2 separate regions of the Homo sapiens genome follow, and region 2 is linked to region 1. Evidence: fine-mapped expression QTL. Tissue or cell type: whole blood. Region 1 holds a variant in brackets; the other region holds the start of a gene. All regions are shown on one strand. Distances are between the middles of the regions.

What was found. PIP is the estimated chance that this variant, and not a neighbour inherited with it, causes the effect.
Region 2: ABCA13 starts here. The variant in region 1 is the best candidate, but not a certain one, in a credible set for the expression of ABCA13 in whole blood (TOPMed, PIP 0.67).

The regions. Positions count from the first base shown.
Region 1 is chr7:48,494,669-48,497,437 of GRCh38, forward strand. All of the region lies in intron 48 of ABCA13 (ATP binding cassette subfamily A member 13), which reads left to right. Among named protein-coding and RNA genes, the nearest start is that of LINC02838, 210 kb to the right of the region's middle. The variant AT/A (reference allele first, on the strand shown) is at 1,527.
Region 2 is chr7:48,170,181-48,172,949 of GRCh38, forward strand. It overlaps ABCA13 (ATP binding cassette subfamily A member 13), which reads left to right and starts at 1,278. Exons shown (of 62, transcript NM_152701.5): 1 at 1,278-1,372. The coding sequence starts at 1,304.

The sequences.
Region 1 (2,769 bases):
CATCTCATGATGTGTTTATATCTGCATAAATAGAGGAAAATGTGTGAACCCTATGAAAGAGAGGATAAAAGATAAGAAGAAAATGCCAGGCTGAGCTGCAGTGTGTTACAAAAACGGAGCTAGCTAAGATGAAGATAGAAATATGAATTTTCATTGGATGCAGTGAATAACATTATTGATTGATTACAAACCTCTCTCCTTCACTTAGAATTATTGACTTAAAGAACAAACATGCAGTATTCTCTAAGAACACACAGGGAAAAGGTGACACAGTAAAACTGATCAGAGGGGAAAAGCTAGAGGAATCGGGTATAGAAAAAAAGCAGATGAATAAGAAAGTAAGAAGGAATGATGTAAGAAGAAAATGAATCGAACACAAAACAAAACAACAAAATAATTCTGTACCAATAGATTGGAAGAGTTTGTCATGATTCTATCAAAATTTATGAATTAGGTATTATGGCAGTAGCAATGATTGATGCACAAATTTGATGAATTTTCTAAAGTTCAAGGATAAAGAAAAAAGTTTTTACAAAGCTATGAGTCAAAGCACATTAGTTTCAAAGGAATAAAAATAAGACTGGCCTCTGACATTTTTTATAATTTCTCTTGAGACTTCATCTTTGACCCAGGGATTATTTCAAAACATGTTGTTTAAATTCTAAGTTTTTGAGATTTTCCTGTGGTCTTTCTGTTACTGATTTCTGGTTTGGTTCATCACGGTCAGTGACCATACTCTGCATTATTTCAATTATTTTAAATTGGTTGAAGTTCATTTTATGGTCAGGATATTGTTTATCTTGAAGCTTCCATGGGTGATTAAAAAAAAGTATTCTACTCTTGTTGTTAGAAATGTACATTATATGTCAATTAGATCCTGTTGGTTGATTGTGTGGTTTTGTTCTTCCATATCTTCACTGATCATTGAAGATTACTGAACCTTCACTGAAGATCATCACTGACACATTTCGTTTGCTGAGAGGCGAGTAGTAAAGTCTCCAAATTGTGGCTTTGTTTCTTTTTTCAGTTTCATCAGTTTTTTCTTCATGTATTTTGAAGCTCTGAGGTACACGTCAAATGTGTGTACACATTTGGCATGGTCACATATTTCTGGTGGATTGAGCCTTTTATCATTTGGGATGATTATATTTTCCTGGTAGATTAATCCTTTGCATATATGTAGTGTTCCTCTTTGTCACTAGTAAATGTAGTTGCTGTGAAATCTATTTTATCTGATCTCAACATAGTCACTCCTTCTCTTTTTCTTTTGATTAATGTTTACATAATATATCTTTCCCGTTATTTTATTTCCAACCTATCTCATTGTGTAAAGTGAGTTTTGTGTAGAGTGTATATTGTTAGGTCATATTTTTTAAGCTGCACTGCCTATCTCTGCCTTTTAATTGGTGTTTGGGAACCATTGCATTTAAGGTAATTACTAATATATTTGGGTGTAAGTCTGACATTATCATTTGTTTTATGTTTCCTCTGTTTCTCTTTTCTTGCTTTCCATGAGTTACTTGAGC[AT/A]TTTTTTTGATTCTATTATGATTTATTTATAGTATTTTTAAGTATATACATTCATTTAGTTTTCTTAGTGGTTCTTCTAGGTGTTATAATACATATATATGACTTATCACAGTCTACTGATATTGTTATTTACTACCTTGGGTGAAGTGTAGAAAGCTTACTTCAATTTACTTTTACCCTGTTTACCTTTAAAATATTATTGTCTTAAGTGTTTCCTATACACACCACATCAGATGGTGTTCTAATTCTTAGTTAAGTCACCAAATATGACTTAGGAAACTCATGAGATGAACAATAGTCTATTATATTTACTTCTATTTTTAACGTATCTTGATGTTCATCTTTCCTTTTGTAAGTTCTAAGCCTTTTCCTGTTATGATTTCCTTTGTGCTTATGTAACTTCTTTTTGCTATTCTTTAAGAGTAGGTTTGCTAATGAAAAATTTGCTTATTTTTTTCAACTGATACGATCTTTATTTCACCTTGATTCTTGAAAGATATTTTCACTGAATATAGAATTCATGGTTGACAATTAAAGAAAAGCTCAGCACTTGAAAAATGTGCTACTTCCTTTTGGCTTCCATGGTTTCAAATTAGAAATCCATTACTATTCTAGTTGGTATTTTCTTCCTTCTCTCTTTGTGACGGCTTTAAAGAATTTTTTTTGTTGACTTATTAGTTTCTAGAAATTTAATTATGATGTATCTTGGTGTGGCTTTCTTTGGTTTTATCCTATTTGGGATTTATTTAGCTCTTGGATTTTTAGGTTTATGGTTTTTTTTTGCCAAACTTGGGAAGTTTTCAGCTGTTATGTCTTTGAACACTTTTTCAGCCCCACTCTCTCTTTCCCTTTTCTCTAAGATCAGGTAATAAGATTATTAGCTCTTGTATTGTTTTCCCAGAGGTCTCTTTCCTGAGTCTCATTTTTTAAAAAGTTTATTTCTCTATGTTATTTAGATTGGATAAGTTTTATTTTTTTCATCTCGAGTCCATGCAGTCTCTTCTTTTTTAGCTGCACTCAACTGTGGAGCATGTCCAGTGGGTTTTAATTTCTGTCATTGTATATTTTAGTTCTAGAATTTTCATTCATTTTTTAATCATTTATATTTTCTAATGAGATTTTAATTTGTTTTTCATATTTAAGGAAAATTCAAAATTACTTTTTGAAGCATCTTTATGATACATATTGTCAGATAATTTCAACATTCAGTTCATTTTGACATTACCATTTTTTATTGCCTTT
Region 2 (2,769 bases), 320 kb before region 1:
ATGGATGAGATAATTTTTGTGTCTCTGACATAATTCTGGCATAGCAGCATAAAAACTGGCTGCTATGAACATAACATGAGAAAAACCTTATGGTTGGAGGCTTTTTCTTATACTAGATTTTTAAAAATTATGACAATTACTTGTAAGGTGTTCTAGATGTTATCTGCAAAGAGAACCAGAGTAGCAATACTTAGGCAACCCCAAAGACCTTTGAGAAGTCACAGGTCAAGGGGGAACATCATATGGGGATCAGGCAAATCCACTTATGGTTGCTGGGCGCCATCCTGCTAAGTAATGGCCTTCACTCTAGTGCTGCCAGCCATGTAACAAAAAATAAAATAAAATAGGCATGCTCTAAACAAATAAGTTTACAAAATAATTGAGTCAGTTTCTTTGCTGAAGCCTGTGTTCCCTGTTTCCTATTGCAAAAGCCATTTATCAAGCATTCACAGCTTGTGAAAATTGCTTTATGAAATAGAAGACCACAAGACTGGGTTGCCTGAAATCCTTCTGACCACAACTGGGGGCAACAGGAACTCAAGAGGGCCTGGCTTCCAAGACGATGGAGCCACCAGCTGGCAAGCTGAATCCATCATGCCACTTAGAAAGTGCAAGTGTTCAGGAATCAAACAGGACTCAGAGGTAATCCACAGGCCACTTGCTGAGTCCTGCCACATCTGCACCCGATACCATTTGAAACGTAGATCCTGATCCCTTTGGAGGAAATGGGTGAAGGAGAAGTATGAAGTGCAGGTGCAGTAGCAGAGTGGAACTTGAGTCACCCATTCCCCAAACTCCCCCAGACACCAACACTGCTTCCATCTCCTTCCCTTCAAACTCTCTGCCATGGGACCACCAAAATTGAAATATTTTGGCAAATTTGTGTAATAACCAATGCTTCAGAAGAAAAAAGGAAAATTCCATCTAATTAATATCCAGAAAAAAAGGGAGGTAAATGGTAAATGTGGGCATTACTTCTTGTCGCACAGATCAGTTCTGTGGGTTCTCGGAAAGGGAGGGCACCCTCTCTGTGTATGTGTGTATGCCCGAGAAAGTCCCTGAAGGCAGCTTTCTGTAATTCAACCCTCCTGAAACACTGAACAGCTAGTGAAAAGATTTCTCAGCAGATGCCGAACAAGAGGGGACATCTGATGCCTGTTTTATTCAGTCACCAGTAATCTCTCTTGCATCACTCACTTTTGTTAGAATTGACTAATAGGCAACATGCCTTCACTTGAGCCCAGCAGATATAAGCACCATCCTTACAGGCTGGCTTCCTGACTGAGAGCAGGGAGCAGCAGGCATGGGGCATGCCGGGTGCCAGTTCAAAGCCCTGCTGTGGAAGAATTGGCTCTGCAGACTCAGGAACCCGGTGAGTGCTTGCCTTGGTTTTCCATAGGGTTCCAGTGAGGTCTGGAGCAAGATCAGGGTCTATTCTTTCCTGCCTGCCTCTGCCTCCTGGCAGGTAAAAACACTCATGCTGCAGGGAATTTGGGGAGGTTGGATTATTTTAAATCAAAACCCGTCCCAAGGGCCAAAGTAGCTGAACACTTTAATGACCAGGATGAAATCAAGGCTGAAGAATTTATCAGAAAAGGGCAAATTTAGAAAAATTCTAAAAACAAACAAACAAAAAAGCAGGTGGAATTGAACTATAATTTGTGTTCTAAGCATTCGTTGTAAAAACTGAACAGTGAATTCTCAGGTTTAAGGAACAAAGCATTTGCTGCATTTAATGCATAAGCAGAATGCTACAGGTACTGACTCCGAAGCACAAGACTGCACAGTGTGCCTCACCAGAGCAGGGTATGACACATCCACTCTGTTATTCTGTAGGGTCACCATCTTTAGTGTTAATTCACATCTATTTAGAACTGTATTCAAATTACATTAGCAAGGTTTTCCTAAGGAGATTGGAATTGTTCAAATGAAACTTGTGTGAATACTTATGCAAATATCCTGTAAGTGTACGTTTTTGTGAAATAGAAATCAATTGCTTGTTATTATGACTAACTTTATTCCTGATGCCACTATATAAACATTAATACCTATAAATGTCATTTTCAGGAGAAGTAGATGTGCAGTAATTTACCTGCATCGTTTCTGATTTTAAGGTCTACAGTTAACCTATGGGAATTTTCTGCTGACAAATGCTTTGGTTTGAAGAGATTCAGTAATTGACATTGAATTACATTTTGCTGAATCCTCCGAGCCAGAATATTCTATCTCTCTGTCTTGAAATAAAATACAAGTTAAAGGAGATGTTTTCTTTTTTATGTGATCTTTAGGATCAAAATAATTTCAGTTGAAAGTTTGTACAAAAGTTTTAAGTTGGCCGGGCGCGGTGGCTCACGCCTGTAATCCCAGCACTTTGGGAGGCCGAGGCGGGCGGATCACGAGGTCAGGAGATCGAGACCATCCTGGCTAACACAGTGAAACCCCGTCTCTACTAAAAAAACACAAAAAAATTAGCCGGGTGTGGTGGCGGACGTCTGTAGTCCCAGCTACGCGGGAGGCTGAGGCAGGAGAATGGCGTGAACCCGGGAGGCGGAGCTTGCAGTGAGCCGAGATCGCGCCACTGCACTCCAGCCTGGGCGACAGAGCGAGACTCCGTCTCAAAAAAAAAAAAAAAAAAAAAAAAAAAAAAAAAAAAAAGTTTTAAGTTCAGGAATAAAGGAGTGAGACAGTCTTCATTGATTGTTAGTGTGTTCGTGTCTGTGTAGGTAGTTTTACATTTATAAACAGTGTATTTCATTGACATGTAAGTTT